Regions from separate parts of the Homo sapiens genome. Here all the other regions are reported to be linked to region 1. The links are microRNA targets in miRTarBase. Many come from high-throughput screens and were not tested one by one. Region 1 holds a microRNA gene; each other region holds the end of a gene's coding sequence. Distances are between the middles of the regions.

What was found. Region 1 holds the annotated microRNA hsa-miR-4695-5p (CAGGAGGCAGUGGGCGAGCAGG, at 3,460-3,481, opposite strand). A microRNA usually pairs through its seed, bases 2 to 8, with sites in the 3' UTR of a target mRNA and lowers its output. Matches are read on the target gene's strand: a 7mer-m8 pairs with bases 2 to 8, a 7mer-A1 pairs with bases 2 to 7 and ends in A, and an 8mer does both.
Region 2: miRTarBase lists TRIM6 as a target of hsa-miR-4695-5p. Seed matches in the 3' UTR shown: 7mer-m8 at 978-984.
Region 3: miRTarBase lists RD3 as a target of hsa-miR-4695-5p. Seed matches in the 3' UTR shown: 8mer at 2,267-2,274.

The regions. Positions count from the first base shown.
Region 1 is chr1:18,879,791-18,885,088 of GRCh38, forward strand. MIR4695 (microRNA 4695) reads right to left here and starts at 3,485; the gene lies at 3,412-3,485. It overlaps ALDH4A1 (aldehyde dehydrogenase 4 family member A1), which reads right to left. Exons shown (of 15, transcript NM_003748.4): 6 at 3,489-3,638; 7 at 3,334-3,408; 8 at 1,910-2,097. RefSeq lists a silencer at 4,339-4,570.
Region 2 is chr11:5,610,563-5,615,860 of GRCh38, forward strand. It overlaps TRIM6 (tripartite motif containing 6), which reads left to right. Exons shown (of 8, transcript NM_001003818.3): 8 at 215-2,390. The coding sequence ends at 780. The region is part of intron 7 of TRIM6-TRIM34 (TRIM6-TRIM34 readthrough); the gene reads left to right. It also overlaps a transcript of TRIM5 not described here. Among named protein-coding and RNA genes, the nearest start is that of TRIM34, 12 kb to the right of the region's middle.
Region 3 is chr1:211,474,322-211,479,619 of GRCh38, reverse strand. It overlaps RD3 (RD3 regulator of GUCY2D), which reads left to right. Exons shown (of 3, transcript NM_001164688.2): 3 at 293-3,098. The coding sequence ends at 584. Among named protein-coding and RNA genes, the nearest start is that of RD3, 15 kb to the left of the region's middle.

The DNA of each region.
Region 1 (5,298 bases):
TGCGAAGGATCCCCCCCAAGCCCAGCGCCCAGGCCTGAGAGGCCAAACCGAGGAGAGTCCTGGGAGAGGGAGCTCAGGCCCCGCCCGAAGCCACCACCCTGGAGGGCCTCGCCTCCTCCCCAGGCTCCAAGTGTGACCAACCTCAGCACCACAAAACAATAAAAATGCTAATCACCCGGGAGCCAGCGACACAGTAGCTAATACTAATTTATGGCCTTCCCACCTTTAAGCCCGCTGCTCATCAGAGCGTGGAGAATGGGGTCCAGGCCCGCTCCGCCCGCTGATAGGCGGGGAGCCCAGGGGCCCGTGGCTGGCAGAGCAGGCCTTTTGGAAAACGGCCCTTCTCAGCAGTTCTAACGCTGCCACCACCCACTCCCACCCCCAGCAAAGCTGCGGGGAAGGGGGTGGCAGAGCCTGGGGCCTGGAAGAGGAGGTAAGAAGGACCCTGAGCTGCAGACCCGGGCGTCTGGCTGCCTCCAGGCATCTCCACCCAGATAACACCCGAAGTGACCAACAGGAGATTCATCTTCCCCCGAGCCCGCTCGCCCTCCCAGGTGCCCATCTTGAACATTCTCGCTGACAACCCCCCTCATCCCCACACGCACCCCAACCCCAACTCCAGGACAGGCAATGGCCACTGTGCCTCCCTGCATCCTTCTCACCTGAACCTGCCCCCTTCTCCACATCCCCCATCTCTCCCCTGGTTCAAGCCCCTACCACCCCTCCCTGGAGGTCAACAGTCCCTGGCCAGTCTCCTGCATCAGGTCACAGAGAGATCACTGAGAATGAGGGTGCCAACACAGGGGCCCAGAGGAGCCAGCAGGGAAAGGAAACAGCGTGGATCAGGTATGCAGGGAGCCAGAGGGCACCCACCCACTTCCAGCCAGTGGTACCACCAGGAAATGCAAGATCAGAGCATCCAGGTCCAGGGGACCAAGACAGGCCAATATTTGGATTTATCTATGAAATTGTCCCAATTATACAAAGTTGGGCCATCACTGTTAGGAGTCAAAGAAAGTAGAGCCTCTTGCCAGATCCAATTTGGGGGCCATTATTTGCAATCTCTGCCTGACACAGAACTCTGACTCAGCCACTCTCCCTGCTTGAAGCCTTCCATGGCTCCCATCACCTTCAGGATAAAGGCCAGACACCTTTGCAGACTCCTAAGTATCTTATGGTCACTGAACCACTCCCTGCCGCCACCTCCAGCCTGAGAGCCGGGACCTTGTCCCTGGTGTGTGCTCACCACTGAGCCTTAGTGTGAGCTCCAAATTTCCTGCTCAGCCAGTGAGTGCATGGATGGTCGAGATCAGGTAGTGGCCTGCCTCCCCTACCTCAACTCAAACCATGCCCTGCCCTCACTCTCTTGCCCTGTCGCCCCCAAACTCCACACTCCAGCCACACAGGATCCTGCCATGCCCCAGAGCACAAGTTTTTGGCTTGGCAACATTGTATGTGCTATTCCCTCTCCCAACATATATATTCTTCTCCTGCCTCTTCCCCTCTGCCTGGCCAACTCCTCTGCTTAGATGTCACCTCCTCCAGGAAGGCTTCCTGACTCCTCCAGTTCATTCTGTGCTCCCCTGTGCCCTTTCCAGTAGCAGAGGTAGCACTGAAATCAATATTACCCACAGCTGTAGGGTGCACTTCCAGTCTGCGAAGCTCTTTCCTGTTCATTAACATGTTTAATCCTTGCAATGACTCTGCAAATTAAGGATAATCACTCCCTGTACAGGTGAAGAAATGGAAGCTCAGAGAGGTGAAGTGGCTCACTCATAGCCACACAGCAAGTAAGGGAGTAGAGTCCGTGCATGACCCCTGGGTTCACAGCCCCATCCCCAGGCAGACAGCAGGTGAGCAGGTGAACGTCCCCTAGCCACCACAGCCTACACCATCCCCAGGGACTTACGGCACACTGCCTGTGAAGTTGATGCCACAGAGGTGCTCTGAGCTGGTGACAGTGTCCCCAAATAGGGGCCCATCAGCTGGCACAAACTGGATGATGTTGGGGGGCAGGCCAGCCTCCCGAAGGATGCGGTAGACAGCATAGCTGGCCAGCATGGCAGTGTCACTGGGCTTCCATAGGACCACGTTGCCCTGCCCGGGAGGTGTTTCAGTGATGCATGAGGATGGCGCCACCAGCCCCCAACCCCCACCCCACCCTACCCTACAGCATGGTTGTCCCTCACCTGGAACCACCAGACTCTGTGCCAACCAGGACATCCCCTACCCGACCCCACTCCTCCAAGGCGTCTGGCCCTATCTCCAAAAGTCCCTGCCAAGGAGGCCACGGCACAGCCCAATCTGCCCCACGCTCTGGCCAAGGCTCCCTTTCCCCAGAAGCCTGCACCAACCGGTCCTGCCATCACCTAGGCAGGTCTGTTCTTACTGCTAGAGTCACTGAGTGCTCACCGGGCGCGGCGGGGCAAGTACACACGGGCTCTCTCAGCACATGTCCTGGGTCAGGCATGTGCAGCAGCCAGGCACGTGGGCGCCTGGCCATGCACCGTGTTTGTCTGTGCACAGATGCATGAGGACGTCCCCATCCATGTCCCTAGTACACACTCCGGCATCAGCATCCAGTGCCCCTGTCTGGGGCTCGGGGTTCCCGACAACTATGTGGACCTCTCCCACCCAGGCTGTCTGGGAGCTGGGCTGCACCTCCCCCACAGGCCTGGGACTTCATCCAGTAATAGCCAACCTCACTCCGATAATGGCAGAGGAGTGACTTGAATACCATCAACCCCGAGAGAGACTACATCCAAATCTTTCTCTGCTCCATCATTTATTTACTAGTCACTCAGTCTTGCCAAGTAAGTCACGGCTGTGTGTCTCAGTTTTGTCATCTGGCAAAGAGGCAGAGTCACAACTCCCTCTCGAAGCTGCTGAGAGGATGAAATGAGATCATCTCCATGCCGTGCTTGACAGCAGCAGGCACGTGGTGAGCACTGAAGGTCAGCGGTAATGATCATCAACAGAGCCACCAACACTCAGCCAGCTCCGGGCCAGCCCTGCCTGCTGCTGGATGTGTCTCATTTGAGCCTCACAACCCAGTCATGGAGGCTTTCCTATTATTTCCACTTTGCAGATGAGGAAACTGTGCCTCAGAGAAGTTCAGGGATTGCCAGGGTCTCCCAGGCAGAGAGGCACGACGCTGGGATTCAAACTGGGTCTCTGGTCCCAAAGCCTACCCACAGCCCCAAGCTGCCTCCACCTTCTGTGCCTCTCCCCATGACTAGGCTGAGACCCAAGGGGCTCAGGGTGGCCTCTGTCTGTCTGTTGGGACCAGGAGGACAACCAGCTGCCGCTGTCCCACCTGTGCCCACATCTCACCATCAGGGCCGGTGCCCCCGCCAGGTTGCCGCCGATTGCAGTGAAGTTAAAGGGCGAGATGGCCGCCACGAAGCCCTGGGGAAGGAGGCAGCGGTGAGATCAGGCCCATGGCATTGGGCTGCCCCGCCTGCTCGCCCACTGCCTCCTGCAGGTACCTCCAGACCCCGGTACACCGTGCTGTTGGTGCTCGGGGGCACGCTGATGGGCTGCTGCCCCTCCAGCTCCACCGCATACTTGGCATTGAACCGGAAGAAGTCGATGAGTTCCGCTGCAGCGTCAATCTCCGCTTGGATCACGGTCTTACCCTGCAAGGCAGAGGGCCGGGGGTCAGGAGCAGCCAACAGCCTCCTGTCCATCCTCTTCTCACATCTGACGCTGTGCCCAAAGCGAGCACTGAGCCGGGCCCCAGGAGGGACCAGGAAACATTTGGAGGGCTCACCAGGTCCCATCCCAGGGGCTGAGGGGGAAAGGATTCTCAAGCCCCTGAGCTAGCACCTCCTGTAGCCGGCCCTCTGGGCTGGACGGGGATCAGAAGAATTTTAGTGATCCTCTGTAGCAGGCCAGGTACTTGCCATGCACTGTCTTCATTTCATAGCAACTCTGAATGGTGGTGCATGGCAAAGGATCTATGGTCAAGCCTCAGACTAAATTCAGGATCAGAGCCTTCCAGACAGAAGGGCAGATTAGCATGAGCTGGAGATTGGTCACTGGAAAACCAGGAGAGAGACTCGGTGTGTGGGAGGTGGATGGCTCCTTCCCCAGGAATGATGTTCGGCCTTGCTGGTTAGTTTGGGCCAAAAACCAAGAGGCGAGTGACTGTGATTCCCTTAAACCGTCAATTCTTAATAACAGCAAATGTGAGCTGCAGGGAAAAGAACTGTGGACAGCCAAGAACGGGGCTTTTCCAGATTGACGTGGCCTCCTCTTGGCACCCAAGGTCACTGGCAGGTGCACGACCTATTAGAGACACACAGCCCATGAAGCTGAGCTAAGATGTGTACCTTGCTTCCTAGAAGTTCCTGAGTCTTAGGCCAAATACAGAGAAAGCCTAAACTGATCCTAGACTGTCTTCCCAGCAACGTGCGGCTCACCAGGAACACGCAGAGCTGACGCCCACCCCAGAGGGCTGCTGAGCCAATCTAAGAAGGCATTTAGCAGGCTGAGGGGCTGTCATACCAGCTCTGTGCAGCAGAGGGGGCGCTCACCATGGGGACCGAGGAGCAGGCAGTGGCAAATGCCTGATCCAGAAAGCAGCCTGGGTTCTGGCTCCTGCAATTTACCCTTCAGGAACCCAGGTTAGTTGGCAGCGTAGGGCTCAGGTCCTGGAGGTGGTGAAATAACCCTTTCTCCCTCGACTCCTGTCCCCCGCACACTCTGCCTGCTAGAGCCACTCCTCACTCAACTTGCATTTAGCAGGGTGAGGAGCTGTCATGCCAGCTCTGTGCAGAGAAAACCATTGATCAGGGGCTTGCTATGCCTCCTGAAAGGTATCATGCAAAGCCCAGAAAAAGACCGAGAATGTCAAGACATGTTTACTATGTCCAAAAAGCTTGTAAAGGGGCAGTACCTAGGAACTCAATACACTCCAGTGCAATCTGAGCTGTAACTGATGCAGGAACAACATGCTCTGGGGAAACAGAGGCAGGAATAGTCCTTTCGGCTGGAGAAGGCTCAGGAAGTCTCACGGAGGGGGTGACATCTGGGCTGGACCAGGAGGTAAGAGTTCACTGAGCACGGAAGAGACAGCAGGCATTCCAGGCAGGAGGACACGTGGGCAGAGGCAGAGAGGATGCCTGCCATGGCCGGGGAGTCCTGCTAAGTGCCAAATGGCTACACTATGGGCAGGACAGCTTGGCAGGGAAATGCAGAGCAGTGGGCGAGCTGGACAGAGGTGGGCAGAAGGGCCCTGGGTATGGGGCTCAGGTCTTGGGACTTGCCTCTCAGTGGTGGAGAGGTCTGGGTGGG
Region 2 (5,298 bases), not on the chromosome of region 1:
TAAGTAGAAGCCATGGCCTCTTTGGGCTGGCACATTCTGATCTCCTTTCACATGCCCTCCCCAGACATAGCCACACAGATCCTAGGTGTTGATGCCTCCCCCATCCCCGCCATATAGTTCCAGTTCCTCCAACCACTTCCTGTGTTTCCTCTTCTCAGCATAACGAGACCCATGTCCCCGTTCTCATCTGCTGATGTTGTACCTTTTCCTACAGTTGACGTGACCCTGAATCCACACACAGCTAATTTAAATCTTGTCCTGGCTAAAAACCGGAGACAAGTGAGGTTTGTGGGAGCTAAAGTATCTGGACCTTCCTGTCTGGAAAAGCATTATGACTGTAGTGTCCTGGGCTCCCAGCACTTCTCCTCTGGTAAGCATTACTGGGAGGTAGATGTGGCCAAGAAGACTGCCTGGATCCTGGGGGTATGCAGCAATTCACTGGGACCTACATTCTCTTTCAACCATTTTGCTCAAAATCACAGTGCTTACTCCAGGTATCAGCCTCAGAGTGGATACTGGGTGATTGGGTTACAGCATAACCATGAATATAGGGCCTATGAGGATTCTTCCCCTTCCCTGCTTCTCTCCATGACAGTGCCCCCTCGCCGTGTTGGGGTTTTCTTAGATTATGAGGCTGGTACTGTCTCCTTTTATAATGTCACAAACCATGGCTTCCCCATCTACACTTTCTCTAAATATTACTTTCCCACTACTCTTTGTCCATATTTTAATCCTTGCAACTGTGTAATTCCTATGACCCTGCGTCGTCCAAGCTCTTGAATATTCTTCTGTTCCCACCCACTTCTGATAAGTACCCTGAGGCTTATCAGCATGTGATTCTCCCTTCTGATCTTCTGTTTTTCTGTGTTCTCAATTCTTTTGTTGTTTTTTGGTTTTTGAATCTTTTTTGAGATGGAATCTCGCTCTGTCGCCCAGGCTGGAGTGCACTGGCGCAATCTCGGCTCACTGCAACCTCTGCCTCCTGGGTTCAAGCGAACCTCCTGCCTCAGCATCCCAAGTAGCTGGGATTACAGGCACCCACCACCATGCCCAACTAATTTTTGTATTTTTATAGAGATAGGGTTTCACCGTGTTGGCCAGGCTGATCTCGAACTCCTGACCGCAAGTGATCCACCCGCCTCGGTCTCCCAAAGTGCTGGGATTACAGATGTGAGCCGCCGCGCCCAGACAGTTCTTTCGTTTTAAACAGTTACTCAGTACTAGGATGCACCCAGTGGTGAGAGTAAGCATCTTTGACTGATGACAGGTCTTGAGGTGGATAGGGGGCGCTTTCAGTATTTTGCCATTAAGCATAGTATTTGATGCAGGTTTTTTTTGATTGATGCAGGGGATCAAATTTAGGAAGTTCTGATCTGTTAATTTACTACAAGTTTTTGTATAAAATGAAAACTCGTATTCTACCTATGTCTTTTCTGTAAATTATTGAGACAATTGTGTATCATTTTTGTTCTGTTAATGTGGCTTAGTACATTGATTTACTTCAATTTGTTACCACAACTTGCTGAAATACACCATTATTATTTGTTGTATGCAATACTGGATTTATTTTGATAACGTATTGTTTAGATTTTGTTCTCATCTATGTTAATGAAAGAAATTGGCCTGTATTTTTACATTCTTGTAATATCTTTGCCAGGTTCTATAAAATGCAATAATAAGCAAATAAATTACTTTGTTTTTGTATAAGTATGTATAGGATTGAGCTCTAAAACCAAACCATTATAATGATAATTTGGGTAGCTTCAAACTCAAATTGAAGAGAGTCTTCACTACAATCTTCACTACAACCTTTGGCCTTCCTCTCTACATTTAAGAGTAGCAATAGAACAATAAAAAAAAATACGTCTTTCAAATTAATTGCAGTAAAAACAAAAGAGTAGTGGGGAGAGAAAAACAATCCAATACATATTTTTCTCTCAGAATAGAAAGAAAACACAAAGAGAAAATATGAACAATATAAAGCACTTAAAGGAAGAGGATGATTTCTTCCAGCTTTTCCACACTCTCTTTATGCGCAGGAACAAACAGCTGTTGAGTGAGCTGCTATGACTTTGGTAGAGAGGTGCAATATGTTTTTTGAACCAGCTATAAAAGAAATTAAGAGGTACATGTGAGGGTAGAAACAAATATCAAGGATGAGAATGGCACTGGCTGTCCCATATGGTATCCAGGAGCCACCAATGTCTGTTGAGTACTTCATACATGCCTAGTCTGAATTGAGATGTGCTCAATGTATAAAATATATACCAGATTTCAAATACCTACTTCAAAAAATAATGTAAAATATCTCACTAATAACTTTTCCTTTGTGTATTGCAATGATAATATGTTGGCTCTATTGGATTAAATAAAGTATGTTATTCATTTTACCTGTTTCATTTTACTTTTTTAATGTGGATACTAGAAACCTTAAAATTACATATGTGGCTTACATTGTATTTCTATTGGACAACTCTGGAGTAGATCCTATAATGAAATTTCTGTCCCTAAGTGAGCCCTAGTGTAAAAGCCTATGGACTCAGGATACAGAGGAGGTTTCAAGGCACATATGTTTATCTCTACAGAACCTGCACCTTCCCAGCTGCCCTGAGGCATTTTTATGGAAGGTAATGACAGAGAAAAGAAGATCTCAACATATCTAGAAGTGTAGAAATTTGGAAGATCATAGAAAGGGCTCATGACCAGAGAATGATTCTGCAGACTCTGGCCCCTGCCGTTAGTCCTCAGTCTGTTGGGCACTTGAAGCTCCTTCATGGTTTGATGAAACACTGATTTGTTATCAAGGCTCAGCTTGGGTGTCTATGGTGAGATAAAGTAGTGCAGATTATAGTAAAAGCTCACTACTGGTTTGTTCTAAGGCACCGTTTTATAATATTTGGGAGATCATATCTGTGGAAGCCCAGAGGCTGGATGCAAACTCCTTATCCTGGTCTGCGTTTCAATTGGAAGAGATATAAAAGGAGATAGGGCCAGCTGACTGGGACCTATGGGGCTGGTGGAAGTTCAGGAAAGAGAAAGATCTGCTGGAGTAGTTATCCCCTTCCCACTTATTTTCCCATATAATAAGTAAGTTCTAGGCAAAAGAGTTAGCCCAGCTCTCTTCTGTAAACTCATTTTACAAGTAAATTTACTTTCCAAGTGAATTTACTTTATAAGTAATTTTTCTTTTTTGTCACCAGAGTTCTAGGGATGTGGTATAGTTATCCTAATATTTCCCAAAATGTGAGTGCTTGCTAGAGCCGATATTTAAGTTTGATGCTAACTTAAAAAGAAGATTTTGGAAGGGAGAGGGACTTTCTTAACAGCTTTATTGTGATATTTACTTCTTTATAAGTAAATTCACTTGGAGAACCCAAAGTATTGTCCAGTGAATGACTTTAGATAATAGTGAAAGCCAAACTAAGTACTTGCTGGAATTCTATAGGTAAGACCTGGGGAAGGTTGCTCAATCTGAGACTTGGGGACAATTATTAGGGTAAGTTCACAGCTCTGACCTTTTCTTGAGGGGTTATGGGGGCTTGACAGAGGCCTTCTGTTCTTGACATGTGATAGAGTAGGCTCAACTACTATGAAAAAGAACTCTAAAAATACATAATGGATCAAATACTAAAGAAATGTACTTCTTGTTAATGTAAAACAATCGGTCATGAGTGTATGTAACTGGTGGTGAGTGGCACTGTTCCATGTGGGATTCATGCACCAAGCTTGCTTTCATCTTGTGGCACTTGCTGTACCCCAGAATGGTAACAGCATGAAGCTGGCAGAAAGGTGAAGAAAACTTAGGGGAGAAAACGTGCTTTTTAAATCCTTAGTTCATAGATGGGATTCGTAATATCTGCTCATTTTCTATTAATGAGAATAGCCATAGGGCTAAACCTAACTGTAAAGATTTTTTAAATGTCTAGCTGTATGCAATCATGTACAATCAAATTTCAAGGAAAAGAAAACTCAGATTTTGGTGGAAACTGCCTGGAACCCTAAGTAATCCTTTTTCCCATTATAGAGGACTCAGGATCTCAGCTTTTTTCTGGAACTATGTTAATTCCATTCTATAGCCTAAAGTTTGTAAAAGAGAACTGTATTGTCACTAAAGTTCTAGACATGTGGTATAGTTATCCTAATATTTCCCAACAAGCGAGTGCTTGTTAGAGCTGGCATGTAAGTTTGATTCTAACTTAAAAATAATCTTTTTAGGGGAAGAGGACTGTCTTAACATTATTATTGTAATATAACTGACATATAATACATTTCATAAAGTATATAACTTGATACATTTTGACTTGTGAAACTCATCACCATCAAGGCAATAAATCAGATGGGGTTCTTTTTTGTATATATAGCACTTAGAGCTATACATTTCCTTCTGTGGCTTTAAATGCATCTCACAAATTTTGATATATTCTCCATTCTATTCAAGATTCTATTTTCCCTTTTGATTTCTTCTTTGACCATTGAATTATTTAAAATTATATTTTTTCCCAAATCTATGAGGATGTTCATATATCTTTTTGTTATTGGTTTATAATTTAATTTTAAATGGTCCAGATACAGACTTTATATGACTTGAATCCTTTTTAATTGTATTGAGACTTGTTTTACGGTAAAGGATATGATCTATATTGGTAAATGTTTCATTTGCACTTGAAAGAAATGTGTATTCTGTGGTCCTGGGGTACAGTGTTCAATTAACATCATGTTAGTTGATATTATTCAAATCTTCTGTATCTTTACTGCTTTTCTATGAGAGAGGGGTGTTGAAATATACAACTATATTTGTGGATTTGCCTATTTCTCCTGCAATTCTATGAGATTTTGCTTTCTGATTTTTGAAGCTCTTTTGTAAGGAGCATACACATTTAGGAATGTTACATCCTGTTGATGAACTGACACCCCTTTCTCATTATGGAATGACCCTCTATCTCTACTAATATCTTTTTCTCCAAATTCTACTTTGTTAGGTATTAATTTAGCCACTCCAGCTTTCTTGTTTTTTGTTTTTTTTTTGTTGTTGTTGTTGTTTGTTTGTTTGAGATGGAGTCTCGTTCTGTCATCCAGGCTGGAGTGCAGTGGCGTGATCTTGGCTAACTGCAACCTCTGCCTCCTGGGTTTAAGTGATTCTCCTGCCTCAGCCTCCCGAGTAGCTGGGATTACAGGCACCTGCCACCACGTCCGGCTAATATTGTATTTTTAGTAGAGACGGGGTTTCACCATGTTGGTCATATTGGTCTCGAACTCCTGACCTCAGGTGATCCACCCGCCTCGGCCTCCCAAAGTGCT
Region 3 (5,298 bases), 190 Mb from region 1:
AGGATCTTTACATATCTTAGTTCATTATAGCTCACACAAAGGCAGCTGTCATCTCAGATTACAGACGAGGAGGCTGAGGCCAACTGAGGCCAGAAGTGGCAGAGCTGGGATTTGAACGCAGGATTGGTTGAAGCAGTAGCAGCGTGGGGTGGTTCCTGATTCGCTTCAGGAGCAGAGTAGAGTGGACTAATTGGCCATGAGGATGCACGGGCAGCCCCTCGGGGTTAGACGCCCGGGGTGCCAGACCCGCTGTTGTGGGTGAATGTCCCCAGCGCCCTCCCCTCCCGCCCAGGTTCCGGCAGCTGCTGGCGGAGCAGGAGCCCGAGGTGCAGGAGGTGTCCCAGCTCTTCCGCTCGGTGCTGCAGGAGGTCCTGGAGAGGATGAAGCAGGAAGAGGAGGCCCACAAGCTGACGCGCCAGTGGAGCCTGCGGCCCCGCGGCAGCCTGGCCACCTTCAAGACCCGCGCGCGCATCTCGCCCTTCGCCAGCGACATCAGGACCATCTCCGAGGACGTGGAGCGGGACACACCGCCGCCACTGCGGTCCTGGAGCATGCCCGAATTCCGGGCGCCCAAAGCCGACTGACCCCGGCCGCTTCCCTGCCCAGAAGCGGAGCCTTCTGCAGGGGGAATGATAGGCCGGTGACCGGAGCGCCGGGCCCTGGAACCTCCCCACCTAGGCCTGACGAGGAGACCCAAGAGGCGGCCCCATCCCAAGACGCTGCTATAAAATGAAGCGACTCCCTGCCCCATCCTCTTCCTCTGGCCACAAAGCTGAGTTAGGTCGTAGAGCGGCACCGCCCTCTCCCTCTCCTGCGCTAGTCTGCAGGAGCAGCCCCTTCCCTAACTGGCAGATTCAAGGTTTTGGAAGACAGACCATTGCCCCATCCTCATCTCCTGGTTCTGTCTAAAAGGGGACAGTTGCCCTGCCTTTTGGCAAGACCTAGGTTCTCACCCCAATTTCAGGGATGTCCCATTCACCCCCCTACCCCCATCCCCAATGAGAAGGGACCTGTTGGCTGGTATGCCTTCTTGCTAGTGACTGGCTGAGCTCACCACTGCAGGTGGGTCACACACAGCCTCATAGGCAGGCACAGCTGGAAGGGACCAGAGAGACATTTAGATCCACTCTCTTCAGCTAGTAAATGTGGAACTTGAGGCTCAGAGAGGGACACTTCTTCTGCCTTTAACTGCAGCCAGCTCCTCATGAACAGTGAGATTGTTCCTGCATGAATAGTGTCTGTTCCTGAGTTTGGAATCCTGGGCTATGAAGGGACAGGTCCAAAGGCTACATCTCTACCTACCTGTGGCCTGATCCATCTCTTACCTTGGCAGTGGGATGAGAATCTAAGCTGCTCTCCAAGAAGTGTAGCTAGGGGTGGAGGTAGGTTACTCATTACCCCACGCCACAATGTCATCGCATGGGCTGTGGCCAGTCCCTAACAGCTTCTTCCAGAGGCTCAGCTCCAAGGACTTCAGATGCTGCCCTAAAGAGCCCAGGTTTCTCAATTCCAGGGTTCCGCTTTCTGCAGCTGGTCACACCTGCTCTCTGGCTTTCTCCAGAAAGTGATGCCCAAACCCCTGACTGACCTTGAGGCAGCTGAGTGAAATGTTCTAGAAGAGCTTCCTGCAGCTTCATTGTCCTTCCCTTTTCTAACATGGTTAGGCCTTGATGATGGGCATGTGGATTACCCAATGTGTGGATCACCCATGGAAAATCTGGAAGGCCAGGAGGCCTTCCCACACACTCTGGGGTTGAAGTGGGGTGTAAGGGGGATGGGTGGGGAAGTGTCTACCCTCAACTACCAGCACACATGCAGAAAATGCAAGTGGACCTTAATAGTAGCCTAAATAAAATACCCGGAGGAGATATAATCAACAGGGGGGAAAAGTGTGTATTCCCTCAGTGGAAAAAAGTTTTTTTGAATGATTTGGTTTTGAACTTCCCTTTTGAAGTTTTTTTGGATTTTCACTTGAATCTGGACAGAGAATCATAGGATGGTGGAAAACCTCTGATCCAACACTATCAAGATGAAAGAGTTGATTGGCTTATTAATGTAATTGGTAGAAGTTGAGAATCACTTAAAATATACATCTTAAACATCTTACGTATTTTATTTGAAGACATAAAAAGTTCACTTGGTTGCCAAACTTTTTTTTTTTTTTTTGAGACTGAGTCTCACTCTGTTACCCAGGCTGCAGTGCAGTGGCGTGATCTCGGCTCACCACAACCTTTGCCTCCCGGGTTCAAGTGATTCTTCTGCCTCAGCCTCCTAAGTAGCTGGGACTACAGGCACGTGCCATCACCCCAGCTAATTTTTGTATTTTTATTAGAGATGGGGTTTCACTATGTTGCCCAGAATGGTCTTGAACTCCTGACCTCGTGATCCACTCGCCTTGGCCTCCCAAAGTGCTGGGATTACAGACATGAGCCACTGTGCCTGGCTGCCAAACTTTTGATGTGGGTCCAAGCTGTGCTTTTTTGTGACCTATATGTTTTGTCTGGTGGGAGTTCTACACTTAAGTTTTCTTGGTTTGCACTTTAATCATAACAATAAGAACAACTGGCGTAAAAGAGTTTTGGAACAAGCAGAAGTGACCCTTGGTAAGCAGACTGCTCAGCTGGTAGGGGCAAAAGTGTTGGGGGAGGATTAGAAAAAGGCCTCCACATTGTGGGCTTTCCGGGTGCCCTGGATGTGGGTCAGCAAATGTTTTAGAGGAAGTAGTTAACCTGGAGGGAGATTCAAAGGAGGCTGGATAAGAGAATGTCTATTTTTCTCCTTCCCTATCACCTTACATGTACCTATTCTCCCCAAAGAGAAGGAAGACCTTAGGCTTTCAATGTGGTGTTCTTTCTTAAGTTTAAGTAACTGGCTGCCAATGAAAACCTTCCCTTCGAGCCGCAGGCATGTGGACAGAATCCACCACCCTCCTTAGACACTCCTCAGACTACTACAGGCTATCCCCAGCTGGTGGCTCTCAAATTCATGAGGGTCCAGAAGTTGTTCCTCTGGATTCAGGTTGTTAAAGGGACTAATGAGGTCTGCTTCCATTACTATTATTGAAACCTCAATAACCACAAATAAAAGAACAAAAAGTTTGAGAGTGTCCTTGTAAGTATCTGATGAGTGGCTGGTGTTATTTTGGAGGGGATGGGTTGAGTGTGTTCAAGACTACCACAGCCAGCCTGTTTGCACCCAGCTCAATACCACTAGCCACTAGAGGGCGTGGGTGGGAGGCTTGTACTACTTGGTGACTACATTTTTTTTTTTAACTTATGAAAATCTTCAAACACAAAAATGTAGAGGGAGAAGTTTAAGAAGCCCCATATACCTACCATGAAAGTTTAATAGTTACTAACATTTGGCCATATTGTCTTTATTTTTGTGTGTGGAGTATTTTAAGATAAATCCCAAGGTGTTGTGACAATTCACCCCTGAATACTTCAGTATGCACTACATAGGAATAAAAACTTCTTCCTATATAACTATACTACCATTATCACTCCTAACAAAATTAACAGTGATTCTTTAATATTACCTAATGCCCTGTCCATATTCACATTTCCCTGTTCCCAAGAAATGATTCTTGCCGTTTATTCCTTTGAACAAGGATCTAATCAAGTCCCACACATTGACAAGAAAATTGCAGTTTATTTTTTTGTTGTTGTTATTTTATTATATTTTATTTGCAGTTTGTTTTACAGTGGTCATATAGTATTATGTAATTCCATAATGAAGCATTGCTTAAAGATAGAGTGCTTACGGAACACTCATGTTAACATGCAATAAGTTAGTGACTGAACACAAATGATAAAAATTCTGCAAATTAGCCTAATGATACGCTTTACTCAGATCCTCGTTATGTTATTTGATTAAAATTCTTCCATAGTCGGAACCAAGATTCCTTCATACTTTGAAACGTAATGTTAAAAATTGGTAGTGGCCTGGGCATGGTGGCTCACACCTGTAATCCCAGCACTTTCGGAGGCCATGGCGGGGTGGGGGGGCAGATCACGTGAAGTCAGGAGTTCAAGACCAGCCTGGCCAATATGGTGAAACCGCATCTCTACTAAAAATACAAAAATTATCTGGGCATGGAGACACATGCCTGTAATCCCAGCTACTTAGGAGGCTGAGGCAGGAGAATCGCTTGAACCTGGGAGGTGGAGGTTGCAGTGAGCTGAGATGGTACCACTGCACTTCAACTGGGCGACAGAGCCAGACTTTGTCCCAAAAAAAAAAAATTGATAGTGACAATATATCTAACCCGACTTTTCATTTGATGAAAATACTTGTCACATCATATGTTTTATTTACTAGGACATGCTTGCAAATAGCAACCTAAAACCTTCTCCCTTTTTCTTGCCATTTAGAAACAAAACACTAACATTTATCAAAATAACTCAGGGGAAATCTGAAGAATTCCAATAGCAGATAATGAAAAAAGTTTGTCTATTTTTGATGCCATTGTTCATCACATAGTTAAATTTCAGTCTATGTCTTAATATTCATATGGTCTCCCAAAAAAACACAATGTTACTTCAAAATTTATTCATAGACAAATTATTTTTAGAAAATTATTTTGATTTATTACCTTGACTCATTTGTTAAAAGGGGAAATTGACATCTATTTCCCTTTACAAATATTATTACATATTGCATCAAATTAGCATTATAATATTAAGGTGCTAAAGACAAAAACAAAAATTATTTCTTTATCATATTCAAGGCAAAAATAATAATTTAAGTTTCTAAAAATGTGCAAGTTTTTATATAACCGTAAAAGGTGTTCACAAGCCAATAGAGGTTGGGAAGTGTTTTCTAAAACATTTTATTGTATTGCATTCTAGTTACAATTCCCTTGTTGAAACAAACACAATATTCTTAAAGCTCGGCAGTAAAACTTGGAAGTTTTCCAGCTCAGTCTCCCAACTCAGCTAGGATTTGGTTCAGGGAAAATTACATTCCAGGAACAAGCTGTTCCTCTCTATGTGAACTGAGCACTGCAGCTAACTGCTTCGAAGCCACTTCTGGCACCTGCTCAGGGCCATAGGCCTCTCTAGAATCCAAGGCAAAGGGGGATACAGTTGAAGTTAACCTCTCCTTAGTAGAAAAGAAATCAAGCCACTAGGGAAAAAAAAAAAGTCTCCAAACTGTAAAAGGAACAGGGGAAATGTGTACTTTATCCAAATAAGCCAGCCCAATAATATTGCTGTGGACAGAAAAGGCTTTGTCATCAAGAAACTCTTTTATTAACATTTTAATGACCCTTTACAGTTTACAAAGTGCTTTCACTCA